Linked DNA regions of Homo sapiens: region 1 is linked to region 2. Evidence: fine-mapped expression QTL. A gene starts in region 2. The other region holds a variant in brackets. All regions are shown on one strand. Distances are between the middles of the regions.

What was found. PIP is the estimated chance that this variant, and not a neighbour inherited with it, causes the effect. A credible set is the group of variants that fine-mapping cannot tell apart.
Region 1: its variant is the best candidate, but not a certain one, in a credible set for the expression of MPRIP in monocytes after R848 (Quach 2016, PIP 0.60).

The regions. Positions count from the first base shown.
Region 1 is chr17:17,006,078-17,021,545 of GRCh38, reverse strand. No RefSeq gene overlaps it. Among named protein-coding and RNA genes, the nearest start is that of LINC02090, 25 kb to the right of the region's middle. RefSeq lists enhancers at 827-1,774, 9,466-10,458. The variant G/T (reference allele first, on the strand shown) is at 8,040.
Region 2 is chr17:17,033,209-17,048,676 of GRCh38, reverse strand. MPRIP (myosin phosphatase Rho interacting protein) reads right to left here and starts at 6,220. Exons shown (of 24, transcript NM_001364716.4): 1 at 5,706-6,220. The coding sequence starts at 5,828. LOC124903938 (a long non-coding RNA gene) reads left to right here and starts at 6,352. Exons shown (of 3, transcript XR_007065644.1): 1 at 6,352-6,406; 2 at 6,769-6,896; 3 at 8,920-9,334. RefSeq lists silencers at 4,228-4,522, 6,196-6,655 and enhancers at 4,334-5,533, 12,018-12,077.

The DNA.
Region 1 (15,468 bases), 27 kb after region 2:
CTTGCAAAATATGACTGTGCGGCTCCCTGCTGTGGCACGGCACTTGTGGCATCATCGAAATGCCAGTAGGGGCTGGCACCGGGCTGCCCACGGCCCCAGCAGGCACTGTCCCCGCTCCCCTGGGCTATGAGGAGCTAAGCGGGTGGGCCCCTCCCACTTCGTCTGAGGCCCAAGAATGCTGTCATCTGGCCACCCACAGCTTTATCAGTGTGGCCTTTCTCAGGATTGCTGGGACAAAGGGCGTGGGTGTTTTCAGGACTCCGGCGGATTCTGGGAATGTCTCTGCCTTCCCAAATCGCCAGTTCCCGGAGGAGGACAGGACCCTCACCCACCTCCTCACTAAAGGAGAAACTGAGGCCCAGAGCAGGGTAGGGACTTGTCTGAGGTCATGCCTGCTTTGTTGGTGAGAATCGGACCTTACTTACCATTTCTGGGTCACAGGCTCCTTTGACAATGTGAAGGAAATTCTAGACCCATTACTCCAATGCCCAAGGGCCAGGCCTGCGGTGTTGATGGCTGGCATGGTCTGCTCGGCATGGGATTTGTCTGGAGCCCATGTCCCCCACCTCTGGCTCACTGTGGCCCTGCAGGGCACCCGGTCGTCCAGTGTTTCAGAGGAGCCAAAGAGCCATCTTTCTGTGTGAAAGCTACTCATGTTCAAATGTTGGCAATGCATTAAAAATGTAAAACTAGACCGGGCACGGTGGCTCACGCCTGTAATCCCAGCACTTTGGGAGGCCAAGGCAGGCGTATTACGAGGTCAGCAGATCGAGACCATCCTGGTTAACATGGTGAGACCCTGTCTCTACTAACAATACAAAAAAATTAGCCGGGTGTGGTGGCGGGTGCCTGTAGTCCCAGCTACTCGGGAGGCTGAGGCAGGAGAATGGCGTGAACCTGGGAGGCGGAGCTTGTAGTGAGCTGAGATGGCGCCACTGCACTCCAGCCTGGGCAACAGAGTGAGACTCCGTCTCAAAAAAAAAAAAAAAAAAAAGGTAAAACTATATATTATGTCAGCCCAATTAAACATCTGTGGGCCAGATGCGGGCTGAGGACCACCAGAATGGGACCCTTGCTCTCGATCCTCTTCCTGTGAAAAAGCGCACACCATAGCATGGGCCTGGGAAGCTCATCACCCAGGCAAGAGGCCTGTCACCTGAAGCTGGTGGCCATGCGGTTTCCGTGACAGGCACTGGTGGAGTTGACAGAGTTCTGGACAAGGAGTCGCAGGCTGGCCGTCAGGCTGGCTTGCCCAGACTTGCCATGAGGAACTCCACAAGCATCTCTTTCCAGTTGAAGAGCCTGGAGCCCAGAGTGGCCGAACAAGCTGGCCAGGCCCCCCGCCGAAGGAGTCAGGGAGCTGGGAGGAGGTGAGGTCAGAGCGGAGGTGGCTCATCACTCCGGGCCGTGGCTTGAGGAAGCAGAAGAGGGTGGGATCCAACTTTGTTCCTGCACTTGGCCCTTAATTTGTTGAAGCTCAGTGGTCAGTTCACATCGGGGGTCAGAGTGACTCTGGGGTGCGAGATGACTAAGTACCCACAGGGCCCAGGCTGGGGACACAGCCTTCCCAAGGAGTCAGACACAGCCAATTCTCACTCCTGGACAGGGAGGTGAGCACAACATACCAATAACAAGCTCTGGGGACCCTGGATAGGGGGCTGGGCCGCCTGGCCTTTCGCCTGCTGCCCAGTTGTGTGTGAGAGGCAGTAATCACCTCCCTGGTTCAATTTCCTTCTCCCTTCCCACCCAAAGTTTCTTACCTGACAGATTGGGGGCAGTGTGGGGTGGTGAGAAGAGAGCAGTCTGGGACCAGGTGCACCTGTCTAGGTACAATTCTGGGCCAAGGGACCTTGGGCCATTCCCTTCCCTTCTCTGAACCTGTTTCCTGAAGTGTTAAGTGAAAAGGGGCAGTGGAGAGTGGGGCACGAGGTCACCAATGGAAAGCCACGTCTGGGCCACTTCACGCCCTCTCCCCTTCCCAGGTGCCCTGCAGTGAAAATGGTCACATCCCAGCTGTCGCTCTCCCTTCCTGTGGTCCAGATCCCAAGTCCTGACTGCAGAGTCTGCTAAAAACACAAATCGAGTCTGGCCACCTTCCACCTCACCCTCTCCTCTTGGCTCCTCCATGCCCCCAGAACCACACTTGGTTGCCCCCATGGCTTCCTGGCCCTGAGGCCTGCTCCCCACCCCCGCTGCCATGTCCTTTCTCCCCACTGCCAGCCTCTGTTCAGGACCTCAAAATCCTCATTCTTTCCTGCCTCGGGACCTTTGCACTCACCATGCCCCAACCCAAGCTAGTCTTTGTAGTCCGCCCCCTCCAAGCCACCTTCCCCACTCCCCCAAAACAACCTCCTCTGTCCTTGGCCCTCAGAGCTGCCCATGGAGCTGCCACCATCCCCCTGCCTTGAGTTCCCATCTCCCTGTGTGCCCACTTGGTTCTCATCTGCCCCCTGCCCCACCAGGATGGAAGATCCATCAGATTAGGCAGCAGACCCCTCCTGCCCGTCCCATGTCCCCAGCTGAACTGGAATGTTCAGCAACCATGAATGAATTCTGGAATCTATATTGGGCCTTAGACAGGCCAAACACTCTGTCCTGGGCTGTGGCCCTGGGCAAGTCTGGTGTGAGCCCTGTCTAGGGAGGGGCCCTGGAGGGGGAAAGCTGCCTGATGGTCCTCGCCTGAGGACACCTGCCCCTGAGCGTGGATATGGGCCCTGAAGCTCTGTACCCGGCCAGACAGGTTCGACAGGATTGCTGTGGACAGAACTCACTCAGCCTCTGTTCAGAACAGCGTGTCCCTCACCTGCGGGAGGTCTGAGGGCTCCTGGCCCAGGAGGTCTGGCTGAGCCTCTCTCTCCCTGGCCTGGGGACTCTTCCTCAGCCTCCCTGGCCTTCAGGGCCCACCTCACCATCCTCCAACAACACCTACCAGGAGTCTGCGATGCACAGGGGCTCTGCCTGGAGTTGGGGGTTCAGCGGTGAGCAGGAAGGATGGATCCCAACCTTTTGTGGGAGTCATAGTTCAGGAACATCAGGTGACATCGAGTGGCTAGGGCCTGAGAGTGGGGATACATGTATGTCTCTGGGAAGAGCCCTGGCTATGGTGGGCTCCCCCGACCTGAGAGGAGGATCTGAGCGTATGTGGAGGGGTCCAGAAAACACCAGTTGCTGAGTCAGGAAATGAGGCAGGAAGTGAGGCAGGCAAGAGAAAGAGCCGAGGCAGGCTGTGCCAGGGAGCACTCTGGGCACCTGAACCTCCATCCCTGGGGGAGGATCCCTTCCTGGCGGGGTGGAGGGGGTGACAGGGAGCGCTGTGGGCACATGGAGCTCCCTCCCTGGGGGAGCAGAACATACCTCAGAGGCTCCCCAGCCCGGCCAGCCAGCTGGGGTGTTGAACCCAACTCTCACGGGCATTGGCTGCCAGCAGTTCTGGGTTGATGGTGATGGAGCTGGTTCTGCGGTTCCCCGTGGGGTGCAATGTGTCGCAGAGAAAGCCCCAGGCAGCCAGAAGCACGGCCCATATCCTTGTGGCCGGGCCTGGGGTGTGGGTACTGGGAAAGCTTCTGCCACAATCTCTAAGGCCCTTTTCATGGCCATGGAAGGAGTGCTCACTCCCACATAGTCACATCTCTCACCCAGTGCCACGGCCTGCCTGCTAGAAACACCATGGCCACCACAGTGTTCCCAGGTACACTCAGAATAAAAGCCTGTCAGACCAACGAGCAGGATCCCACCTGTGTCCAAGCCATCCTGCCTGACTGCTTTGGCTCACTCTCTCTGTCCCAGCCAGTCTGGAGCCACACTTTATTGCAGCGCTTCGGCTCCTTCCAACTGCACGGCCTTCCCTGGGCCACTTCCCCTGCCTAGAAGGCTCTTTGCCCATTGTTTCCATTTCTGCCAGGTCTTGGTTACATGGTCTTGGTTGGAGGATGGTCTCTCTGATCGACACCCCTGCCCGTGGGACCCTCTCCCTGTGGCCTCCATGCTCAAAATGCTCATTCTCACCTGCCTCAGGGCCTTTGCACTTGCCATGCCCCAACCCAAGCTAGTCTTTCCAGGCCATCTTCTCCAAGCCACCTCCCCACTTCCCCAAACAGGCTCCTCTGTCCTTGGCCTACAGGGCAGCTATGGTTGCCTTTGCATGTGGAGTTGGTGCTCACTATGGCACAGCCCTGCCTGTAAGCTGGGGAATCCAGCCATTGAGGAGTGCTTGCCAAGAGAAAGAACGAACCCTCAACAGTGATTCAGAAAGGGTCTCCTGGACCCACATGTGTCCCCCAACACAGTGTGTGACCTGGGACAGCTCCCCCTCTGCACCGCATCTCCTCTGTCCACTGTGGTGATTGGTCCCCAAAATCCCCAAGGGCCCTGCTGGCCCTGGCCTTTGAAGCTCTGGGACACAATTATCAAGGGAGACCCACTACCTACACTCCCAGAGCTGAGAGCCCAAACAAGCTCTTAAATCAATCAGCGACATCACCTTCCAAGTGAAGAAAACAGGACCTCTGGCCTAGACATGAGGACAGGGCGGAGGAGGCTGCAAACGCCCCTGAGCGAGCTGGCTAGGAAGGGTCACTAGTTGCCTGGACCTGGAAGTTGAGGGACCCACAGAGAAAAGCAGGGAATCTCAGCTGGAAGATGGGGACGACATCAACTCAGACCCTCAGACTCAACCTGGTAAGGGAGAGTGGATACATCAAGACTCCTCACACCATTGAAATCAGCTCTGGCTAAGTCTAGCCAAGGCAAAGCAAGCAAGGAATGTGCTGGGAGGTTATAGGTTAGCTCACAAAACCAAAAGAAGAAGTAAAAAACCACATCCTGGAAAGGACTGGTTTGGATATGAGTTTTAGGTAGCCGAACGGGAAGCCCTTGGATGAATGAATTCTCTCTGCTTTCATCCTCAAGTCACTCTACTCAAGATCCAAATTTCCTTAATATATAAAGAGCTCCTAACAATCAATAAGACAAATAAAACTTCAATAGAAAAAACTTCCACAAGTATGGACATGAACAGATAGTTCACAGAACAGGAAGTAGAAATGGTCCTGGAGCTTATAAACAATGTTTAGCCTTATTTATAATCAGAGAAGTGCAAATGGAAACTAGAGTTCAAGACTATTTTTCAACTATCAGATTGGCAATCATCCAAAACTGTGATAACACTGTGTCACCGTGGGTGTGGGAGACAAGCTCTCTCACACATTACTGGTGGGAGTATAAACTGGTAAGGCCACTATCAACATTTTTTTTAATGCACATGCCTTTTGATCTGAAAACTTACTCCTAGAAATGTACAGGGACACTTGCAAATGTGCTGATGGCCCTAGTACAAGGATATTTATTGTGGCATGTTTTTCTTGTAATAGCAAGATTGGAAACAATCTAAATACCCATCAATAGAGGTTGGTGAGCTCCATAATAACGTAGCCACTCAGTGAACTCTGCAACTGTGAAAAAGAAGAATGAGGTAGCTTTACATACTGCAGCCTGGAATGATCTTCCAGATAGACTATCCCATGAAAAAGCATGGTGCATGCATATTTGTGAAAGCCTCCATTTCTGGTCTCTGAATTCAGAACGCTCACTTTTGTCTTGTGTGGCTACTGTCCACTCTCCACCAGCAGGTCACAGAAGCGTGACCCCTCGCACCTTCACATGCACCCCCTTCCTGGCCTGAATGGCCTTGGTTTCCAACTGTCCACACCTATGACTCTTTGCAGCGAGACTGTCATCAGGCTATTGGAGCCTCTTAGTCCTTTCTGCAGAGAGCTGGAAGTGTCCCCCTGCCGCAGGATGGCCCTTCACTAATGACTGACATGTGTATCCTTAGCTCAGGCTGGGAAACAGAGATGTGACTCCACTCCACAGTCCCCCGAGGGACCTGCTTCTGTAGGATTTTGCCTGGGGCCACAGACTTGCATGGCTTTTCCCCTCTCTGTCTGCTACCCCCGTTCCCTTACTGCTCTCCTTGGGTGCCGTCCTTCATCAGTCACTGCCATAACAAATCAGGGTCTGCTTCTGGGGAACATGATCAAGATAGCTGCCCCCTTACCCTGCTCCTTGCTTTTTTGCAGGTAGGATGTGCCTGCATATGCAAGTGTATGATGCAATGTGGGCACCGTGGTTCTTCCCGTTTCACAGGTGAGGGACCTAGAGCTACACGGCTCGCCTTAGGTCCCAGGTAGGAAGTGGCAAGCAGCTTTGAAGCCAGGTAGTCTGGCTCCAAGAACAAACTCACATCCACTGAAAATATTGAAAATAGCCTAGAGAAGGTAAGCTCCAAGTAAAAGGAAAATCTGCATTGTCAAAGCAGGCCAAGCATGGAAGAACGCTCATTTATTTTCCCAAAAGATTATTTTCTGTGGTCTTCCCTTCATAAACACACATCCCACTCTCAGATGCAAATCCTAGAGCTAGAAATGGGGCATTCAAGGTAGACAGAGCTCCTGGGAACAGCACGTTTGCAGAGATGGGAAGGGAACCTCCCACTGGTTTTGGTTTCTCCATGGCTACAGGCAAAGCCTGCCTGCTCTGCATCCGGGGATCTTGGTCAGGTGTTGGAATCGGTGGGTGGATTGCCAGTACATTTGCACCGTGTCCTAGAGAGCCTCTATGCATTTCAACTCTGATTCTCCTTCACCATCTACGCGCAGCCCACAACCGCAGGACCCCACCCCTGGCTCTGAATCTCCCATGTCCTGGCGCCAAGCAGGTGAGTCAGCCTAGGAGGAGGAAGGGCTTCCGGAAGCCAAGCCCATGCTGGGGTGGTGAGAAACAACTTTCCTATGCAAGGAGGTGCCTGAGCACCCCCTGATGATCAAGCTGGAGCCCCCTCACCTCCCCGAAGTGTGCTGGAGGAAAGGCCAGAAAGAGGCAGCAGTCTTCACCCACTGAGGCTGAGTTTCTCACTCATGCCAAGTTTTACATAAGCTGGGGACCATGTGCTTCAAGGCTAGAGGTCTTGGTGGGCCCAGGGCCTTGGAGGGGCCTGGATGACCAAGGGGTCCGTGGCTTAGGCCCTGGCTCTGCATGGGGAATCTTGGGAAGGTTGGAAGCCCACAGCCCCTACTGAGAAAGGAGCCACGGGCCAGATCTTTTGCACAAATCCTGCCTGTGCTCCTTGACTGTCTCTCCCCACCGGGGTCACGGTGACCAAGCAGGCAGGAGACTCCATCCGTTCACAGGACTAGCATCCTGGGAGGGCCCTGGCCTGAGCGAGCTGCTGCAGGGGACCCTCATGCTGGATGGTTGGCCACTCAGCACCCTTTTCTCTGTGGAGCAGGGATGACATTTGAGAGCCACCAAAGATGGGCAGGAAAAACAAAGGCCACCACAGAGGAAGCTGAAGGCAGAAAGAGATGCAGAGAAAGTGGGAGAAACTCGGCTGTGCTTTGTGGGGGCCCTGCAGGGACATCAGCTCCTGAAGGGGTGAAAGAAAGGGTCCCCTGAACTTTGACACTGTTCTTCTCGAGGCCTGGCCAGCCCTGTGGCTCCTTAGAGGAATCTGGGTGCCTGCTGTCCCTAGTACCTGACAAGCCCCAGGTGAGAAGACCTGAGTTCACCTGCGCTGCCACGTGTAACCTGATGGCCCCGGCACCCTCGCAGGGTTTGAATAGCTGCCCTTTCCACCTGTTTCCCGGATTTTCCACACCACCCAGAGGCTCATATTCAACCCCACAGCCTACAAGTCAGCCAGGGGCCTTTGGCCACATGTACTGATGATGAGAATCACTGGATTGTAAGCTGTAAAAGCACAAGGATGGTGTTTTGTTCCCCGCTACCCCCTGCACCTGAGGCCCAGCGAGGATTGCTGCTCGGATGAAGGAGAGCGAGTGTTCGTGGAGCTCTTTGCAGAAGCCACGGGAAGCCCTTCCTGTGCCTTCTCAGGTTTAGTCTCAGACAGCCCCACTTTCCAGATGAGGAAACAGAGGCTAAGAAAGGAGAATAAACTTGTCCAGAATCAGTGGTGAAGCTGGGATTTGAACCCCATCCTGTTGGACTCAACACTTCCTCTGAAAAGACAGGATAAGGGAGCT[G/T]CCTACTTCTGGCTTTGGGAACCGGCAGAGAGGAGCAGAGTTGGGCCAGACGCGTCACCTCCCAAGCTCTGCGGCACCCAAGGGTTCCCAGGGTCCTCTTCCTCCATTTGGCTCTTTTCTTCTCTGGACTCTCCCACCTTCGAGGATTGGACTCCTTGCAGGGAGAGCAAAGCAGAGAACAGAGGAGGCCCATCTGAGGAGAGAGTGCTGGAGCAGATGGAGCACAGAGAGAGCCCCCAAACCTTAGCCTCACCTGGAGAGTGGCTCCCTGCAAGCTGAGCCCCTGTGTGCCCAGAAGTGACATAGGCATTCAGGAAAGGGACTGAGGGAGGAAAGAAGGAGCCATTCCTCTTCCCAGGGGCGCCTGCCCTGGGTTCCTGAGGGACGCTCCATGTTTACATCTCCAAAGCCCAGTCCCAAACACGCCAGAGTGCAATGCCCTCCCTCAGACCCAGGGCCATCCTCAGAGCAGCCGGGAGGCAGCCTGTCCACCCTTACCACAGGCAGGTCGCCCAGGCAGCCTCCTCTTAGAGCTCCTGAATTCTGGAGCATGAAATAGAAATGTGAAAAACAGGCTGGCGTGGTGGCTCACACCTGTAATCCCAGCACTTTGGGAGGCTGAGGTGGGCAGATCATTTGAGATCAGGAGTTTGAGACCAACCTGGCCAACACAGTGAGACCCTGTCTCTACTAAAATACAAGTAAATAAGCCAGGCATGGTGGTCCACACCTGCAGTCCCAGTTACCTGGGAGGCTGAGGCAGGAGAATCATTTGCATCCAGGAGATGGAAGTTGCTGTGAGCTGAGATCGCACCGCTGCACTCCAGCCTGGGCAACAGAGTGAGACTCTGTCAAAAAAAAAAAAAAGAATGAGAGAGAAAATAAATACTACAAAATGTTAACAATGGGTGAATGTAGGTGAAGAGTATGTGGCAGGGTGTTTTTTATTCTCGCAAATTTTGTGTAGGTTTGAAGTTACCACAGAATAGCAAATATAAGAATGATTCCTGCAGACACACGAGTGATTTCAACTGTTCACAGGGCTCAGGCAGGAAGCAGATCTCTTGCCCTCCCTCTGATCCAGGTCACTTAGTCCAGTCCCTGAAAGCAGTGGATGGACAACCATGCCACCCTCTTTCTTCCAATACACCTTATTTTGTATCCTGCCCTTTTTGTGTAGCATTAGATCATGAGCATTTTCCTCTGCTATAAATGTCCCCTCAAATATGTTGTTTCTTGTGACTCCCTAGTGTTCTACCCACGATTTCCTCGGCTGCTCCACCTTGGTGGAATTCAGTGATTCTTCTGCCTTTTCACCATTGTAAGTGATGCTTTGATGAAAAGCTTTGTAGGTTTATCTGTGCTGCACCTCTGACCAGTCTTTTCTGGAAGACTCTAAGGAAGGAGACAGGGGCATGGACCACTGGCTTTTGAAGGCATTCGGTGGGTCCTGCCATGCCGCCTTCCCACATTCCAGAAGGGTGGTCCCAGTGAACAACCCACCAGCACGGGGCCCCGCTCCATGGTGCCCCAGCAAGGCCAGCGTCCCTATACAGGAAAATTAAACCATTTGCCAATTCAAGGCACTCCAGATGGATCTCTCTGTTTTCTTTGATGACTGATGTGTCCTTTTTTGTTTCCTTCAGAGCACTAAGACTGTGCATTTTCCCAGGACTGTCAGGGTGGTTTTCTTACCAATGTGTGGTGGTTGTGAGGGTTCAATTGAGTCGATGCCTGCAAAGTGCTGGCCCAGCACAGGAAAAGCACCCAGTGCTTGCTGGCTGTTTGCTGTGCCACAGCCCAGGTCACAGGCTGGGTCAGCTGCTCACTGGCAGTGCCACTGTAGCCAGGCTGCTCACCTCACTGAGCCTCAGTTTCCTTCTCTGTGAAAGGGGAGCACCTTCCTCACAGGGCTGTGGTGGAGTGAAGGCAGGTAAAGCACTTAGGAGGGCGCCCTCCCATGCTTGGCACTCTGCAAATGCTACTGGGATTTGCACAGGAAGGAAATTGACCCTTTGTCCTATTTATTACCCATAGTTTCCTTCCGGAATCCGAAAGTGGAGTGTGGTGTGGCTGGCAGAGCAGGCTGCCCAAGGGAGCCAGGAGAGGGGAGGACGGAAGGGGTGGGAGCCGTCTTCTCCAAGGCTGCTGTAATGCTGACCTAGAGAAGACCCCCAGAGTGGGGCATGTCCCACACTCAGCTGGCCCTGCTCCTGCCACCAGGCCTGGCACACATCGGATGCTCCCTGAGTCATGTCGAGGAAGGAATGTCTAACACTTGAAAATATTCTAGAGCCATAAAGATAGTCCTGGTTGGACCCAGACCAAACCTCAAATTGGTCCCAAGGAAGATTTCACAACTTCCTTTGAGAGATGCCTCTCAGTGTCGCCTGGCGCGATTCAGGAAGTCCTTCTTGAGAGCTAACCTAAATCCTTCCTGCTCGCCCTCCTCATGCTTGGGAGAGGAGGCAGCAAGGAGGGGGGGACAGGTGGGCCTCTCGCCTCAGAGCCCATATGAGGTCCCGAGAAGGTGAGGCTGGGCCCTGACTCAGCTTCAGCACACACTATTTCCATTCCCTTCCCGTGACTCAACAGGGGAGGGGCCCGGGGGCCACTCACCTCTGTCTTCTCAACCTGCAACTCCCCCCACCCCTTCCTGGATTCCTGTGACGCAGGAATCCCTCTGGTCTGTGTGGAGGAACCCAGAGCAACTTGAGCCAGAAGTGGATGTCCAAGCCGGCATGAGTCACCCCTCAAAATCAGGACCAGTGAGGGCCTGAAGAGGCCACACAGCCTCCGGCAGCCTGGCCGCCGCTCACTTCTCTGGGAAAGTGGCCTGGAGCTCGCATGGCATCTGGGCCCAGCCTCTGCCTCTGACCTGCACTGACCCCTGTGTCACCCGCCTCCAGGGTGACCCTCCTCCTGGCATTCAGACAGCTCCACTCACTGCTTCGCACAAACCTGTGCCACCCTGGTTCAAACATTAACCAGCTGTGTGACTTTTTAGAAGCCCTTCCCATGTTTAAAAACCAAGCTGGGAGGATGCTGCACCACTGCCATCATGGTTCTCACTGAACCGTCGCAGGAAAAAGCATTTCTTGCGCCATGGCTGTGTGCAGAACAGGCTTCCCACGGCTGAGTCCCCAAGCCCCCCACAGACGCTGCCAATGAAATGCCGTCAGCCTCAAGCATGGTTCTTGGTACCCAGCCCTGGTAAAACCACGTGTCTCAGGCCTTCTGAACCACAGTGCCCAGAACTCTGGCTGGGCTTTGTCCCAGAGGACAAGACTGGCCAACCCCCTGCTGAGCTGGAAGAATAGCTCCCTCAGCTGGCAGGGACCTGCCCCTGTTGCAATTTGGACTGAGTAAATGCTGACAGGAGGAGACTGCGTGTCAGGCCAGGATAGACAGAGGCAAACTCTGTACCCTCAGAGAGCTTAGAAGCTAGGGTTGGAAAGCATGGGAAAGGGTCAGACACCCAAGAGAAACAAGTGCTGATGTCCACCAAAAGAAAACTTACTGCATTCTATAAACTAAAAACAAACAAATGTTCTCCTGCATTGCATAGCAGAGGAAAAGACCAAATGACTCTTCCATGCAACAAGTTAGATGAATCTCGCAGATAAAGTCAGACAAAAGAATCCAGACGCAAAAGAGCATGCACAGTATGGAGGTCAAAAACAGGCAAGGTTGGGTGCGGTGGCTCACGCCTGTAGTCCCAACACTTTGGGAGGCTGAGGCAGGTGGATTACGAGGTCAGGAGATCGAGACCATCCTGGCTAACACAGTGAAACCCCTTCTCTACTAAATATACAAAAAATTAGCCGGGCGGGGCGGCGGGCGCCTGTAGTCCCAGCTACTCACGCGCTGAGGCAGGAGAATGGCGTGAACCCGGGAGGCAGAGCTTGCAGTGAGCCGAGATGGTGCCACGGCACTCCAGCCTGTGTGACAGAGCGAGACTCCGTCTCAAAAAAAAAAAACAAAAAAAAAACAGGCAAAAGTCATCTATGGAGACAGAAGTCCTGGTGGTGGTTTCTTGGTGGGGCTGGTGGAGGATGGGGTTATTGACGGGAAGGAGGCACCAGGGAGCTTTCTGGGGTCCTGGAAATGTTCCATGTCTTCATCTGGGGTGTGATGACGGGGTGGACACATTTGTTAAAAGGCATTGATTTGCACACCAACATTTGTGTACTTTGCTGTAAATTTTCCCACACTTTAAGAAGAAGAGGAGGGAAGAAGAACCCTTGGGGAGACCAGCTGGGACCCCCTGCTGCTGACTCGCGGGCGTTGCTTCGTGCCCCATGATTGTCAAGCCATTGAGGCCTCCTGGCAGCCTGGTAGACCTAGAACTATCTATGCCAATAAGACACAGATTGTTGGCTCCACCACCAGTTTCTGAATCAGGAGGTCTAGGGGGGCCTTGGAATTCACATTTCCTGCAGCCTGCAGGCCATGCTGGGGCTCTGGCCCAGGAACTGTGCTTTAGAAGAGACGGTAGAACATGGTACTGGCTACAGAATGTGCTGTGAGATCCCTCCAAGCTGGGAAGGACCCAGGTAAGTTCACAGAGGAGGTGCCCTTGAAAGATCAGTAAGATCTGAAAACGCCCAAATAAGCAGGAACTGCTGGTTCCAGGGAGGGAAGTCAGTGTGAGGCAAAGTAGAGAGGCTGGGAAGTGCAGCGAACGGCATTCCAGCCCTCAGGAGGGCAGGGCTGGCAGACAGATGTCTGAGTCCATTTCGTGCTGCTATAACAGAATACCTGAGACTGGGTCATTTATAATAATCAGACATTTATGTGGCTCATAATTCTGGAGGCTGGGAAGCCCAAGGGCATGGTGCTGGCCTGAGCCCAGCATTTGGTGAGGGCCTTCTTGCTGCCTCATCCCATGGTGGAAATCAGGAGGGTAAGAGACCAAACTCACAGTCTCAAGGCCTTTTATAATCAGCATTAACCCATGCGTGACGGTGGGCACCTTATAACCTAAACACCTCCTATTAGGCCCCAGCTCCCAATACCATTGCACCGGGGATTAAGTGTTGAATACACGCCTTTTGGGGGACACATGCAACCCACAGAAAGAGGACATTGAGGCTTCTGCTTAGAAGGTTTTGTTCTGCATGATAAAGCTTGAAAATAGGAGGAAGCTCCAGAAAAATGGCCCTCCCCCACCCCTACCAGGGGATTATGTTCCAAAGTCAGAAAGTGAGGCACAAACCACATGTGGTCATTTACCTGTGACAACCTGTGATTGGCCTATGAAGGTAGATAGCCTAGCTCAGTGCTAAAGGGCCGGAGCAGATGCTGAGTTCACTGGCTGAGTGCCAGGTAAAGCCATCCGTGTGCACTGAGTGCTCATATTGGATGACAAACCTGGACAAAGAGCCCTCCAGCCCTTCCCTGTAACAAGCAGGAGCCGGGGCAGAAGGGCAGAGGTGCAGCACAGCTGGGTCTAATGTGGGGAGCAATGTGGGGCAGGGGCAGGGCCAGGGCCAGGAAAGGGGCCTGCAGCTGTTGGTAGGCTAGCGGGTAAACAAACCCATTACAGTGGAGGTGTGCTGCTGACCGCCTTTCCTACAAGCTCATGGGCCGCCTTCACAGCACTTCCCCTGCTGCTTTTTCAGTGTAATCTTACAGCTATTCTGTCAAGACACCATGTTAAACACTAGTGGAAAAGTCACTGTGCAGAATTACCATATAATCTAGTAATTCCGCTTTTGGGTATATACCAAAAAATACCCCAAAAATAATTGAGATCAGGGTCTCCAACAGATGTTTGTTCACCCATGTTTATAGCAGCATTCTTTTTTTTTTGAGACGGAGTCTCACTCTGTTGCCTAGGCTGGAGCGCAGTGGCGTGATCTCAGCTCACTATAGCAGCATTCTTTACAACAACGAAAAGGTGGAAGCCACCCAAATGACCATCGATAAACAAAAATGTGGTCTGTGCGTACAATGAAATATTATTCAGTCTTACAAAGGAAGGAAATTCTGGCACATGCTACAATATGGAAGAACGTGAGGGCGTAATATTCCGTGAAAAGACAAACTCTATATGATTCCACTTATACGAGCTAAGGGAAGGGGAATGGGGAGTTACTGTTTACTGTTCATTGGAGACAGTTTCAATTTGAGGAAGATGAAAAAGTTCTTTTTTTTTTTTTTTAAGAGACGGAGTCTCGCTCTGTCGCCCAGGCTAGAGTGCAGTGGCCCTATCTCGGCTCACTGCAAGCTCCGCCTCCTGGGTTCACGCCATTCTCCTGCCTCAGCGTCTGAGTAGCTGGGACTACAGGCGCCCGCCACCACGCCCGCCTAATTTTTTGTATTTTTAGCAGAGACGGGGTTTCACCGTGTTAGCCAGGATGGCCTCGATCTCCTGACCTTGTGATCTGCCCACCTTGGCCTCCCAAAGCATTGAGATTACAGGCGTGAGCCACCGCACCCGGCGAAAAAGTTCTTGAGATGGACGATGGTAATGGTTGCACAACAATGAGACTGTGCTTAGTGCCACTGAACTGTGCATTTCACGATGGTCAAGATGGTAAGTTTTATGTGGACAAAAAGAACACGCTATGTGTGGAGGGGTGCAGTGGCTGGAACCCCAGCACTTTGGGAGGCTGAGACAGGCGGATTACTTGAGGTCAGGAGTTCGAGAGCAGTCTGGCCAATGTGGTGAAACCCCGTCTCTACTAAAAATACAAAAATTAGCCAGGCGTGGTGGCGCACGCCTGTAATACCAGCTACTTGGGAGGCTGAGGTGGGAGAATTGCTTCAACCTGGGAGGTGGAGGTTGCAGTGAGCCGAGATTGTGCCATTGCAGTCCAGCCTGGGCGAAGAGTGAGACTCCGCCTCAGGAAAAAAAAAAAAAAAAAAAAAGAACATGCTATGTTTGTATTTAGGATCTAGGTTTAGCTACGTCTAACAACAGTGGCTTTAACAAGACAGAGGTTCATTTCTCCAGCACACTGTCTAGGGGTGGCAGGGCAGTTCAGGGCTGCGGTGGCAACTCTGCTCCATGCAGTTATTCAGGGATCCACCCTTCTCTCTCCCATCCCTAGGGTGTTTCTCTTGTCCATGTAGCTCAAGACAGTGCACCATCATGTCCACATCCTAAACAGCAGGGTTAAGAAAGTATGGAAAAGGGCTTGCCCTCCCCTTAATAATTTTTTTTTTTTTTTTAAGAGACTGGGTCTCACTCTGTCACCCAGGCTGCAGTACAGTGGCACCATCATAGCTCACTGCAGCCTAGCCTGGGCTCTAGCAATCCTCCCACCTCAGCTTTCTGAGTAGCTGGGACTATAGCCACATGCCACCATGTCCAGCTGAATTTTTTTTTGGTATTTTTTGTAGAAATGGGGTCTCGTTATGTTGCCCAGGCAGGCCTTGAACTCCTGGCCTCAAGTGAGCCTCCCACCTCGGCCTCCCATAG
Region 2 (15,468 bases):
TTATTTTTTTAATTCTAGCCATCCTGACAGGTATGAAGTGATATCTCACTGTGGTTTCAATTTGGGTTTCGCTGATGACAACGCTGAGCATTTGTCATGGTGCTTGGCCGTCTGAAATGGGATTTTGTGTGTCTGAGATTTTTGACACGCTCCCTGCCAAGCAACACACCAACTCCTGTTACAGATCTTCTACAAGGGGGGGATGCGAAATCTCCCCGTTGTTTCTGAGATACACATTAAGTCAAATCAGGAAGTCCTATGCCTTAGAACTTCTACGAATGTCTACAGGAACAAAGGGAAACCTGATGAAATGCTTCCCTGAGACCTCGTCCTGGCCCACACCCTCTATGTCTGAAATTCCCACCTGAGGCCCCCGCAGCTTTGGAGCCTTGGCAGTGGGGTATGGGCACAGCAAGGGCAGAATCACACCAGGAAGACTAAGAACCCTGGGAGAGATCAAGACCGAGCTCATTTCCAGATGGGAAAACAGGCCTGAGCAATGAAAATGACCCAGCCAAGGTCCCACAAAAAAACAGGGCTAGACAAAGAAGTAGAAACAGGCTTGCAGGCTCCTTCCACAGAGGCAATGCCTGAAGTTACACAGTCAGCAGGAGAAAGAGACATCACCCCCAGATCAACACGCGGATGTAGAAGCTGAGCACCCTGGGTTCCAGACCTGCTTCTCCCACTAATGCCCACCCCTCTGATTCACCTCCCAGCCTCTGCACCTGCTCCCCTTTTGCCTGCCCACTACATGGGGGCTTCCTAGGCTGGTTCCTCTCCTTTCACTCTATGCAGCCTCCTGAGTGCTCACACTCACTCCCATGATTTCAGCAACCACCTCCACATCCAAGACTTAAGAATTCCAACCCAGCCTCCCTCTACGTCCATAAGGGTCAAACTTACCATATTATTTTTTACCCCTCCCCATCCCCCAAGTTTACTCCAAATCTGTTCTTCTCAATCTCTGTTAAAGGTACTTCTAACTACCCCAGGTTCCTCAACACCCACCTCTGATCAACCAACAACATCCTGTCCCTAGAGTCTGATTCCTTCCATCCTCACCAGCACTGATCTGGAGAGAATGCCTTGATTGTAATTTACCCAGTTTAATAGCCTCCAGTAGATCTTCTGCCTTTAACCAGAATTATTTTCCTAAAAAACAAGTCTGATAGATTAAAAAGCTAAGTATAAAAATAGCTATAAAAGAATATGAGAAATTATTTTACAAATCTTGGAAAGTAGGCCTTAAACATGACATTAAAACTACAAACTATTAAAAAAAAAGACCAACTGCATTTATATTATGAAAAAGAAAAATAACCACACAAAAAAGACAAGTGGCATTCTGGGAAAAAATACCTGCAATACGTGGCAAGCATCGGATTAATATCTAGTTCAGGGTCAGCAAACTATGGCTCACAGGCCACACATCATGCCAGCTGCCTGTTTTTGTAAATAAAGTTTTTTAAATTTATTATTATTATTACTTTTTTGAGAAGGAGTCTCACTTTGTTGCCCAGGCTGCAGTGCTGTGGCACGATCTTGGCTCAATGCAACCTCTGCCTCCTGGGTTCAAGCAATTCTCGTGCCTCAGCCTCCCAAGGAGTAGCTGGGATTACAGGCATGTGCCACCACACCCAGCTAGTTTTTGTATTTTTAGTAGAGACAGAGTTTCACCATGTTGGCCAGGCTGGTCTTGAACTCCTGACCTCAGATCATCCACCCACCTCAGCCTCCCTAAGTGCTGGGATTACAGGCATGAGCCACTGCGCCCTGCCGGTAAATAAAGTTTTACTGGAACACAGTAACTCATTCGAACTCATTCGTTAATGTGTTGTCTACGGCTGCCTTTGTGATGAGACGGCAAAGTCTGCACAGTTGTGACAGAGACCATATAGCCCACAGACACTAAATTATATTTACTATTTGGCCTTTTACCAAAAAAGTTTGCAGACCCCTGACCTAAAGCACTTATAGAAAGCTCCTACAAATCAACTGGGGGAAAAACTAACCTTACAGAAAAATGGGCAAGCAATACGAACAGGCAATCCACAAAAGAAACAAAAATACTCAGTAAATACTATAAAAAAGGCTCAACTTCATGAGTAATTAGGAAAATTATTAGAGAATTAAATCATTTGATAATATCCAGTCCTGGAAATGTTATCACACAGCCTTTTTTGGAAGGCAATTTCGTGGTATCTGAAAAAAAAAATTTATGCGCTTGATGTCAACCCAGCCATTCTATTTATAGGTATCTGCCCCCAGAGAAATACTTGCATTCATGCATGCACGCACACACACCCAGAAGTATTTATAAGACTCTTTGCCGAAACATTCACTGTATGTAACAGCAAAACCCATAAGCAACCTTGATGTCTATCAATAAGGAAACGGGTTAAATTATAGTACACTCCTAAAGGCCTAATATGCAAAATGGTTCTGGCATCTTTATATGCAACACCATGAAAAGAACGTAAAGATATGCTGATAAGCAGAAAACAAAAAATATGTCGCAGAGCAAATACATGCACACAGTTCAGGATAAAAAGGTTTAACTGTATATTTGAGCTGGGCACAGTGACTCACGCCTGTAATCCCGGCACTTTGGGAGGCCGAGGCAGGCGGATCACGAGGTCAGGAGATCAAGACCATCCTGGCTAACACAGTGAAACCTCGTCTCTACTAAAAATACAAAAAATTAGCCAGGCATGGTGGCGGGTGCCTGTAGTCCCAGCTACTCGGGAGGCTGAGGCAGAAGAATGGCATGAACCTGGGAGGCGTAGCTTGCAGTGAGCTCAGATCGCGCCACTGCACACCAGCCTGGGCAACAGAGCGAGACTCCGCCTCAAAAAAAAAAAAAAAACTGTATATTTGGGTCCGTATGTCGCTGAGAAATGCACAGGAAAACTGGAGGATAAATGACACTCTGTGAACAGGGGCCTGGAACAAGTAATAAAGGACGGTCACTTATCACTTATCCCAGATTACTCCAAATTTCCGTGAGGAGGAAAAGGCAAAGAACTCCACTGCTCCAAGCCAGCATTCTCAAGGCACCTCCTGCAACATAACTATCCCTGACATTATTGTCCTCATCATGTGCTCATGGTGTGGCCACTGTAGACCCTGAACAGGAGTAGGGGAACTAACATTGGCTTCAGAATCCTGGCTCCATCCCTGAACTGGGCAAGTCACTTCCCTTCTCTGGGTTTCAATCTTCTCACCGGTAAGAGGAAGTGGTTACATTAGCTGATCTCCAAGTCCCTTCCAGGTCTGATGCCATAATACAGTCCCTGCAAGAGGTTTCTGTGCCTCTCTAGGGGAAAAACAAACAAACAAAACCCACAGCTGAGGAAATAAACCTCAAACCAAAAGGCTCAGAGAAATGTCTGCTCCTGGGAAGATGACATCTCCAGAGCAAAAGCCGGCCAAGGCTGCCCACCACCTCCCTGGGCCCAGTATCCTCTCCTCTTAAGGAGGGAGTGGCCTCGATGGTGGCTGATGTATCTTCCAGCTTTGACGGTCTAAAATAAGCTCCAGGCTGGGAGGGGCAGCAGGAAGCAGGGGCTTGGGGGAGACTGATGGGAACCGATTGGTTGAGGTTTTCTAATGGAGCCATAAGGATGAGAGTGAGAGGGAGGGCCGGATGCAGAGAGCAGCAGAGAAGGCTGTTGGCAACAGCCCTGAGTCTCCCTCCTCTCTTTTCAAGAGCAGTTTCTTCCTGAAAGATCCCAGGAGGTAGAATGCTGGGCTAACCTCTCCCAGCACAAATAACCCCACTCATTATTTCAGAAACTACCATTCCAGTTGTGCCCTGAAGGTCTCAGGCCTGTTTCAAAACCCACAATTCAACTTTGAATACAGTGAGAGTACAGTATTTTAAGTTTGCCTCTCCCCGTGAATCCAATTAATAATCAACAGATTAAAAAAAATCTTAGCAGATTGGACTCAAACATGCAGATTCCATCCTAGTTTATCTAAGCTTAAGAATTCGAAAACAGCCCCTATGAGGTGTAAATTTACCAATTTTGACAGTTGCTTAGAATAACCAGGAAACTTACAAACCTCTCTCAGAACAACCCTTGCCCAGAAACTTCTTAAAGTGGCAGGTTTTTTTGGTTTGTTAAATTGTAAGAGAAAAAAGTTTCATAAAATATCATTTCTTGCTTTTCACAAATGCTCAGTGAAGGAGGTAAGCCAGGGACCAGGATTCCCAATTTACAGATAAGGAAATTAAAAGATACAGAAGTAAAGGGATTTGTTCAAGGTCACACAGCTGGAAGTGACAGCCAAGACCTGAAGCAAAGTCTCCTAACAACTCCTCATCGCATAAACTGTTTCATCCAAAAAAGCATCCAGATGAGAAGAAGGAATCAAGTTCTCCTTTACACTCCAAAACACCCTCCGAGGTAAATGAGTTCTATCCGTCCCAAGCTGACCGTCCTTAAAACCCTTGGTATCTTAACCATCTATGACTTTGCAGCCTTGAGTGTTTCGTTAAGCTTTTGGGGTTTAGATGAAAGGAATCTTTTCCTGGCAGTTGGAAACCTGACCTCAGAGAAAGGCCCCGTGCCCCAGGCCGTAACCCCTGCCCCACCACCCTACTCCAGTCGGCCATGTAAACAAGTCAAACCCTGGGTGCACTGAAGTGGCATTAAAAACAACCAGGCCCGTTCACTCGTTTTCAGTCTAAGGGGTTCTTCTGCGACAGGAGTGGCTACAACTAGGTCACACTGGACTGGAATGTGAAGGGACTTCCCCTGGCTTCATTCAGGAGGCTGAGAGAAAGCTCTGAAGAGGATGGAGATGATGGCCGTGGGGAGGGTACCGAGGCACATCCCAAGGAGGTGCACACAAGGCTCGGAATCCTGGAACACTAGGAGTTCAAACAGCAATCACTGCAGGGGTTCCCAAGGGCCATGGGGGCTGCAGCCAAGCCTCTTGGAGCCTTTCATCAATACAAATTCCCCATCTCCCCAGTCACTCCAGGGCGGGGGCCCCAGAACTCTGTGTTTAATGGCTATGACTCTAATGCACGTTTGGGAGTCATAACTAGTTCAAAGCCCTGTTTGACAGTTAAGGCTGGGAGACAGAAATCAACTTTCCCGAGGACCCACAGGTCTCCTCACCCCTCGGCCAGTGACCAGGGAACTGGTCCCAGCTCCCCGCTAAACTACGGCCTGCCAAACTAAGTTCAAGAACAAGACCCTCCTCGCCAGATTTGGACACCCCTTCACCTCTCTCCAGTGCTTGACAGTGACGATGATTCAGAATCGGGGCAGGCTGCGTCCCACTAGACGGAAGCCCACAGTCCTCCCCAACAATCCGACCCCTGGGCCACTCTGGCTGGACAAATCCAAGTCCAGTCCCAAGCCAGAATCTCAGGGGGGTCCCGTCAAGCGGCATGCAATCCCTAAGCGCTTTGTTCCTACTAAGCGAAACCAGGCACTTTTGAGTCACCCAAAAAGCATGAATCACACAGCCGGGCAATGGGAACGGGAAAGGATGTTATTTTTCGGCATACTCGAGGATTTTCCCTTTGTCCCAGCTCTGTCAATGCACTTCCCGTCCCCGTCCCCATGCCCCAGGACTCGCGCATTTCCCTGCTCCATTTTTATTTTCCCTGCAGCCCTTGGCGGCGCCCCGGCCGCCGACCCGCGGCTCCCAGAACGGAGGTGTCCGGGCCGGCCCCAGTCGCTCACCTGCGTCAGGTCCTCGTCGTTGAGCAGATGCGACTCGCGGGGCTTGAAGCAGTTCTGACACTTGCTCTTGTTGAAGATGTTGGCCTGGAATTTCCTGCACGGGTTCTCCTTGGCTGCCGACATGGTCGGCGCGGCGGCGACGGCGGCGGCGGCGGCGGCGCAGGCCTGGCCGGCCTGGCGCTCCCGGCGGGCTAGGGGCTCAGCGCGGCCGCGCCGCATCCCTCGCCGGCCCCGCCGCAGGCCCGGCCCGGCCTCCTTCCCGGCGGGCGGTTCGCTGCACGCGCCGAGGCTCCTGAGCCGCCCGGGCCTCACAGCGCGCGCGACGCCCAGCTCCCGCCCGCACCGCCGCCGCCCGGCCGCCGCGGGCCCATGGACGCGGCCTCGGGCCCGCTGCTTCCCGCTGCGGCCCGCCTCTCAGGCTCCGGTCGCCGCCGTCCCGGCTCGTCCGCGCCGCCGCAGCTGCCCTCGGCGCCCCGCGGCCGCTGCAAATGGGACCGGAGCGCCTCACGCACTACGGGGGCGGGCGGGCGGGCGGGCGGGCGGGCGGCCGGGCGCGGGGAGGTGCCGGGGCGTACGGGGCGGGGCCGCGCCCGACGCGATCGGCAGCCCCACCGGCCAATGGGGTTGGCGCGCTCTCGCTAACAAAGGAACCTCTGGGCCAATGGCAGTCGGGGGCGGGACCGAGGGCCGCCGAGCGCAAGGTAAGTTGTGCAGGCCGGGAAGGTGGGGGCGCCGGCATGGGACGTTCAGGTTTGGTGGACTGGCGCCGAGGCCGGCCGGGCTGACAGCTGCAGGGCCCGGGCGGGGGATGCGGGGGAAGGCGGAGCCGACCTCAGGCTGCCTCTCTGCAACCCCCTCGCTCCCAGGCTCGCCTTCCCGCGCCCACGCTGTACACCCAACGGAGGCATCTTCCCCAAGCCCAGCTCGGAGAGGATTAGTTTAGCACCTACTGTGTACCAGGCCCCCTCGTAGGAGTCAGTTAGCGTCGGGAAGGGCTGGATACTCCAAGGGCTCGCTCATTAAAGGTTCGCAACCTCTCCTTTCTCATCCCCATTTTACATAGGAGGAGACTGAGGAGCAGAGAAGTAACAGCGGGTAGTATTTCAAGGGATGACTAAGAGAAGATGTCAGCGGACTTGAAGAGCTGTCAGCTCCATTAGGGGAGATGAGCGAAGGCTGACTCTCTGCCAGGTGCTGAGCTAGGCATTCTTTCCCCCATGATGTGCTTGAGGAAATGAAGGGTCAGACACCTGGAGTAATTTGTGTAGGATCACTCTGCTAGGAAGGGGCCGAGCTGTCACTCCCGTCCTCCATTGTCCAGCCTCCTGGCCAAAAGACAACCTGGAAAAGGCTGTCAAAGGCTCAGGCAGAAGGTTGCAGGAGCCCAGAGAGGGGAGAAATGCGCTCTTTAGAAAAATTCGGGTGGCTTCAAGGAGGAGGGGAAGTTTAAGTGGACAGTGAGAGGGTTGAGTGTGGCTGGAAGTGGAGATAGGGGAAGAAGGAGCAAGAGGGATTGGAAGAGGGCTCTATCACCCAGGCCTTGTATTCCAAGCCCAGGCGTGCACATGTCATCCCACTGGCAGCTGGGAGTCATGGTGAGTCTTTAAACAGGGGGGTGAGCTAACCCAGCCTTCACGGAGGAGGTGACATTGGAGCATGTGGTAGTGGCAGCCACAGCAGCTGTCGCTCAGGGAATGGAGGAGGTTTTAGGAGGAGAAGTAGCAAATGCTTCCAGAGCTGTGTACTTTTCCACGGATCATCTGGTAAATATCCCAGGGAGGTGGATTTCAACTTAGTGTAAGAAAATGCTTTTCCTCAAAAGGGAGCTGTGGGAAGGCAGATCAAAGTCCTTTGGCAGCCTAAGGGGGAAAGCCCAGCTCCACCAGGCAGGAGCTCTGTGGCCTCGGGCAAGTCCCTTAACCTGCCTGGTGCCTCAGTGACCTCATGTACAAAATTGGCATTAATTAATTAATGTGAACATTAAATGATATAATGCTTGTTAAGTAGCATAATGTTAATTGGTGAATCTAGGCAAAAGGTGTTTATTGTACTATTCTTTTTTTTTTTTTTTTTTTTTTTTTTTTTTGAGACGGAGTCTCGCTCTGTCGCCCAGGCTGGAGTGCAGTGGCGGGATCTCGGCTCACTGCAAGCTCCGCCTCCCGGGTTCACACCATTCTCCTGCCTCAGCCTCCCGAGTAGCTGGGACTACAGGCGCCCGCCACTACGCCCGGCTAATTTTTTGTATTTTTAGTAGAGACGGGGTTTCACCGTTTTAGCCGGGATGGTCTCGATCTCCTGACCTCGTGATCCGCCCGCCTCGGCCTCCCAAAGTGCTGGGATTACAGGCGTGAGCCACCGCGCCCGGCCTTATTGTACTATTCTTGCAACTTTTCTGTTGCTTTAAATTTTTGCAAAATAAAAAAGGGACGGAAGACTGACAATTCTGCCCTGCAGAGAATACTCAGAAACTGATAGAAGAGGTGGCCACTGGGGAGGGGAGCTGGGTGGTTGAGAGGTGACCTACTTTTAATTTTCATTGCAATCCCTTTTGTTTCTGCTGAATTTAGTATTGTCTGCATGTACAACTTGTTTAAAAATATATATATACATACATATATATATATATATATATATATATTTTCTTTCTTGATGTCCTGCCCATTCCTCAAGGCCACCTCCCTTAAAGTGCTCAGCATGTTCTGCTCAGGTCAGTAGGCACATCCAGCACCTGCACTGGACTGGAGGGGTCCACAGTAGGGGCGCAAAGAAGAGTTTCATTCAGCAACTCAGAGGCAGCCTGCCCGGCAGGAGCCCACACTCAAGCAAGTGGAGACAAACAGAAACAGGAGACAGAGAAGTTCAATCCGGGGTGTTGTGGGGGCCCACACAGGGGCACCCAGCCCCGTAGGCAGCTTCAGGGAAGGCTCCTGGAGGAGGCAATGCCTAGGCCGAGTCTGGAGCTGAGTAAGACCCAGCCAGAGAAGGTGAAGGGAAAGACACGTCAAACTGGGGCACCAATTATAGAGTCTCAGGCCTTGAAACCAAAGGGTGTGTTCATGAACAGAAGCAGCTTTCTATCACTGGGTAGTTCAGAGAGGCAGGAGTGACCAGCATTGAGAGGCACTGGGAGGAGTAGTGGATGGTGCAAGCCTAGCCTCTTCAGGGAGACAGGTATGGTTTTTGTTGTTAATACTATTTCATCTCCATTTTATAGAAGACACACACGAGGCTCAGGACATATCAGGAACTTGCCTGTGGTCACAATTATAGATCCTACAAGTGAAGATTTGAGCCCACACAGGCCAGCACCGGAGCTGCCTGGGCCAGGGGCAGTCATCAATTTTGAATTTTTTTCGGCTGAGCACTTAGGTAAGGGCTGCTGATCTGGAGAATGAATCAGGGGCAAGGACTGAGAGAGCTGCAGAGGAGAGAGGGTAGCAGCCTGACTAGGATAGGGTCAGTGGGAGGCAAGGGAATGAATTTGGAAAATGTTTAGGAGGTAGAATCAATTAGTTGCGCTCCTCTCCAAAACCCTCACGGTAGAGTGGGGTCTTGGTTGCTACTCCATTTCCCCTGTCTAGTTCAGTGCCTGGCATAGAGCAGGGGCTCAAAAACACCCCATGGGGGTGCAGTGGCTCACACCTGTAGTCCCAGCACTTTGGGAGGCCGAGGCGGGCGGATCATGAGATCAGGAGTTCGAGACCATCCTGGCTAACACAGTGAAACCCTGTCTCTACTAAATATACAAAAAATTAGCCAGGCTTGGTGGCAGGCGCCTGTAGTCCCAGCTACTAGGGAGGCTGAGGCAGGATAATGGCATGAACCCGGGAGGCGGAGCTTGCAGTGAGCCGAGATCGTGCCACTGCACTCCAGCCTGGGCGACAGAGTGAGACTCTGTCTCAAAAAACAAAACAAACAAGAAAAACACCCCATGGGTGAATGGATGAAAAGTCATCGTTCCACCTTGTATTGTAATATCTCCTCCACCAGATTATGAAATCCATACCGACACAGTCTGTGTCTCATAACCTTGGCTTCCCTTTCCAGGGGCCTAGAACAGCACTTTGCATGAAGTTCAATACTCAGTGTAAACATGTAAAGATTCACTGGGCTGTATGCTTTTTTCACTGCATTGTGTACACCTCAATGTATATTGTTTATCTCAAAAAAGCAAATAAGCAAGCAAGCAAGAAAAGGCCGCTCAGGTGAGCCCCAAATGCAGGTAAGTCTTGATTTGTGGCTCTGACTGCCATCCTGGGAAGTTTTCCCTGTGTCCTGTTAGGGAGCAGAATTTACACACAGATACCCAGAGGTAACCACTATTTTGATCTCCATCACCATAGATGAGTGGAATCCGCTGCGAGCTATGCCTGGCTCTTCTCATTCAACAGTATGCCTGTGAAATTCAATCCACACGGCTACTGTATATATCAGTACTTCATTCTTTTTCATTGCTGCCTGGTAGTCCCTTGTGTGGAAATACTACAATTTATCTGTCCATGTTCCCGTGGATAGACATTCAGGATGTTTCCAGTTTGGGGCCATTATGAATAATGCTACGAGTATCTTCGTGCTTGTCTTTGGTGGACATAAGCACTTCTTTCTTTTTTTTTTTTTTTTTTGTTTGAGATGGAGTCTCGCTCTTTCGCCCAGGCTGGAGTGCAGTGGCACGATCTTGGCTCACTGCAAGCTCCGCCTCCTGGGTTCAGGCCATTCTCCTGCCTCAGCCTTCTGAGTAGCTGGGACTACAGGCACTCGCCATCACGCCCGGCTAATTTTTTTTGTATTTTTTTAGTAGAGACGGGGTTTCACTGTGTGAGGATGGTCTCGATCTCCTGACCTCGTGATCTGCCTGCCTCGGCCTCCCAAAGTGCTGGGATTACAGGCATGAGCCACCGCGCCCGGCCAAGCACTTATTTCTATTGGGAATACCCAAGACTAGGGATGGCTAAGTTTTGGGAAGTGAATGTTTAACCTGATGGGAAACTGCCAAGCAGTTCTCCACACCTGAGAGCTGGGCTCTCATCTCGCCCTTTTTCTGCTAATCATTGATAATAAAATTCATCTGGAGGAATGTGTGAATGCTACAGGTTTCCAGGGCCTCCCATGGAATTGTGTATCTGTTGGAGTGCACGAATCTATTTTGTCATTGCTATTGAGACAGGGTCTTACTCTGTCGCCCAGGAGTGCAGTGGTGTGATCTGGGCTCACTGCAGCTTTGACCTCCCAGGCCCAAGTGATCCTCCTACCTCAGCTTCCCAAGTAGCTGGGACTACAGGAGTGTGCCACCTTGCTTGCTAATTTTCCTGTAGAGACAGGGTCTCACTATGTTGCCCAGGCTGGTCTCGAACTCCTGGGCTCAAGAGATCCTCCTGCTTCAGCCTTCCAAAGTGCTGGGATTACAGATATGAGTCACTGTGCCCAGCCGAAGAATCTGTTTTTAAAATATTTCTGCTAGGCAAGTTTTGGAAATAGTGGGTGGAGCTGTGGTTCTCAAATCCTGGAGGATTAAAAAAATTCCTACTCTGGAGGCTGGGCGCGGTGGCTCAGGCCTGTAATCCCAGCACTTTGGGAGGCCGAGGCAGGTGGATCACTTGAGGCCAGGAGTTCGAGACCAGCTTGGCCAACATGGCAAAACTCATCTCTACTAAAAATACAAAAATTAGCTAGGCATCATGGTGCAGGCCAGTAATCCCAGCTACTAGGGTGGCTTGAACCTGGGAGACAGAGGTTGCAGTAAGCCGAGATTGTGCCACAGTGCTACTACAGCCTGAGTGACAGAGCTAGACTCTGTCTCAGAAAAAAAAAAAAAAAAGGATTCCTATTCTGGTCCATTTCCAGATATTCTGATTTAATTGGTGTCTGTAAAGGCTACTTGGAGGATTCTCATAACCACACAGGAGTTGGAACCACTGGATAAAGGAGGGTGGAAAGGCGAAGGCTCTGGTGTGGTGTGTCTCAGCCAGCTATTGCTGCAGAACCACCCCACCCCACAAAGCAGAGTGGCTTGAGCACTATTTTCTTGTCTCTCTGGTTCTGAGAGTGGACTGGGCTCTGCCCGGCAGTCCTGCTGGTCTTGCTTGCTGTAAGTGTGGCTGCATGGTAGCTGGGTGAGGTCACTGGAGGCTGGACTGAGACAGGGCTGGCTGGACCTTCGTCCTTTCCTTGCAGCCTCAGAGCCTCTCCTTTCCCCATGGCTTCCCCTTCTGCTCTGCGTGCAGCACCTCAGTGTTCCCCAGAGCAAAGAAGCAGAAGTACCCATCCTCCTTAATGCCAGGCCTGGCACTCGACCGCATGCCATTAGTCAGCACACGGCACAGGATGTCCCAGACTCGAGGTGGGGGGCCCACAGAGGCGTCAGCCCCAGGAGACGTGGTTCACTGGGGCCACCATTGAGACTAGCTACCATAAATAGTAGCCATGTCATACGAGTATTGTGAGGACTAAAGAAATTTATATATGTGACGTGCTTAGAACAGTCCCTGAAACACGGTGTGAGCTCAAGAACTATCAGCATGTATTAGTATGCCTATAACCCCTATGCCAGGGGTTGGCAGATTTTTTCTGTAAAGGGCCAGATACTAAATATTTTAGCCTTGTCAGGCCATATGGTCTCTGTCGAAACTACTCAGCTTTGATATTGTCAAGTGCAAGCATCCATAGACATTACATAATGAAGGGGCGCAGCTGTGTTACAATCAAACTTTATTTAAGTAGTAAGTGGCGGGCTGGATTAGGCTGTTTCTTGGGTCCCCTCTTTTCCTGTTGCTCGGGCCTCCCTCTCCTGGACAGTCTCTCTGAAATGTTGGTCTCCCTGTCCCAGACAGCACCTGTCAGCATTCAAGAATTCACAACCATCGAGCACTGACAGTGTGCCAGGCTGTGTGCCGTGTGCTGGGCATTCGTCACGTCGAATCTCACTAAGTCCAGCTGTCATCATTTGAAATTAGCTCTGGCAGCGCTGGTGGTGTCTGATGGGAGTCCTTAGTGCCCACCCCCCATCATCCATCAATCCCCTGAAAGCCACCCCAAATAAATATATACTTTGTTAATGTAGCTTCAAGAAAAATCTCCTAACCCCTTTCCAGTTGCCACCCCAGAATTAGTATTATCCTCAGCTTACAGATGAGAAAACTGAGGCACGGACAAGGCAAGTATTCAAGGTCATACAACAGTAAATGGTAAGCCTGGGATTCAGACATGGGCAGTATCTTCGTGAGCACTGCTCTACACAACCTCCAGCCCAGGGAGCTGCACGTGGCCCTGACAGCATCGGGGGCTGGGCCCCACCCTTCCCTGGAAGCAAGACCACAAGATCTCGGAGGCCCTTTCCAGCTGTGACGCCATGAGGCTTTTCTACAGCAGGCACCAAATGACAATAGTCTCCAGATGTGCACTAGGAGAGAATGTAGTGCACTTGACACAGAAAGTCCACCAGAAGGGCAAGTTGGACATGTTATTTAAATTTTAAGTCTGTGACCACTTTGACATAGTGATTCCACTTCTAGAAAGATAGGTTGTAAAATTGCTCACACAGGTACACAGATATTATGTACAAGGATGTTCATTCCATCATTGTTCTTAATAGCAAAAATTGGAGATACTCCAATTGTCTATCATTAGAGGATCGGATGAATAAATTATGGCTCTTTGATACAGGGGAGTACCATGGGGCTAGTTGTTAAAGACTGAGATAGTGTTGACGTGGCCATCCATCTCAAAATATGGTGAAGTGAAAAGCTGTTGGAGAAATGGTGTGCATTGTAGTAGCTCATCCTTGTTTTAAGAGTGTGTGTGTTAGCAATATTCACAGTTAGTGTTTACATGGAGAAGGTCAGGGGCACATACACCTAACCGTTCATTGCAGTTAACCCTGGGAGGTGAAAGAATGGGGACTCACACTTAAGCTAGAGATTTATATCATGTTTAAAATTTTTAATAAAAGCTTTTGTTTTCTTACTAATATAGAGAAAATCATATAATGAAGGTGGATGTATCCATTACCCAGCTTCCATATCAACTCAGGACAAGTCTTGTTTCAACCATACTCCCTCATCTACTGTGTGTGTCTGTAAAAGATAAGAACTATTTTCAAAAAGTAGCCACAATACCATTATCATACCTAAAAAAACAATAATTCTTTAATATCATTAAATGCCCAGTGAGTGATTTCCAGTTATCTCCTAAAAACAGAAATTATTTTTGTAATAAGAAAAAAAAGGCTGAAAAAGATAAAATTGTCAATCCAAAGAGCAGATTAGTACAAGTTTCCTGGAGCTTTGTTTAGTGATACTTATCAAGAGCCTTAACAATGTGCTTACCTTTTGCCCTAGTAATCCCAACCTGTGAATTTATTCTAAGAAGAAAAAAGAACATTGAAGAGGTATACAAACATTGTTCACTAGAGTGTGCAGTGTCTGTTACAGAGAAGTTGTTTGAAAACTATTTGTTGAGGCCAGATGTGGTGGCTTACATCTGTAATACTAGTACTTTGGGAGACTGAGGCAGGAGGATTGCTTGAGGCCAGGAGTTCCAGACCAGCCTGAGCAACATAGCAATACCCCATCTCTACAAAAACATTTTTTAAAAATTAGCCAGGCATGGTGGCTCATGCCCATAATTCTAACTACTTGGGAGGCCAAGACAGGAGGGTTGCTTGAACCTAGGATTTCAAGGCTATAGTGAGCTGTGATCACATCACTAAAACTCCAGCCTGGATGACAGAGCAAGACCCTATCTCAAAAGAAAAAAAAACAAACCACAATTTTTTTTGAATTTGAAGTTGAGCTCCTGCTGTGGTTTGCAGCTTTGTTTGTAAAAGAAAAGCTGAAAGTCATGGAAGTGTGTGACATTAGGGTACTGGCTAAATAAATGAGGGCAGATCCATAAAATGAAACATTGTTCTGTCATGTAAAATCAGATTCTAATAATACACATAGATAACCACCGCTTCCAAGAGGCAGAACTTCATCCTCATCCTCTAATGGACTATGGAAAGAAGAAAAACAGTCCTTTTACAGTGAAGAAACTCAGCAGATGCTCCCTCAACATCGCTGGTGGTAAGTCTTGTGGCTACTGGGTACCCCCTGATACAATGACAGGGGCACCTCACCTCTGTGATCTTTTACCCAAAAACTAATAACCTCAGTCTCATGAGAAAAACATCAGACAAACTCAGATGAGGGGCATTCTACAAAATACGTGAGCAGCACTCTTCGAATGTGTCAAGGTCGTGAAAAACAAGAAAAGACTCAGAACTGTTAGGGACCAGAGGAGCCTCAGGAGATGACGGAGACTGAATGCCATGTGGGATGCCGGATGAGATCATGGAACAGAAAAAGGGCATTAGTGGGAAACTGGCGAAATCCTAATAGAGTCTGTCGTCCAGCTAATAATGTTTTACTAATGTTAACTTTTTAGTTTTGACAAATGTAGCATGATTATGTAAGATGTTCACATTAGGGGAAGGTGGGGGAAGAGTATGGGAACTTTGTGGAACTTTGCTGTAAATCTAAAATCACTAAACAAAAATTATTCAAAAAATCAGGGTGTAGATATTTATTAGTATAGAAATGTATTCACAACATATTAAGGGGAAAGTATGTATGGCCTCACATAGTTTTTGCTGAATGAGACCGTATTTGTAAAAACTCTAATAACAAGGTGTATGTCTACATGAATGTGTATATATGCACATGTAGGCTGGGCACGGTGGCTCATGCCTGTAATCCCAGCACTTTGGGAGGCCAGGGTGGGCGGATCA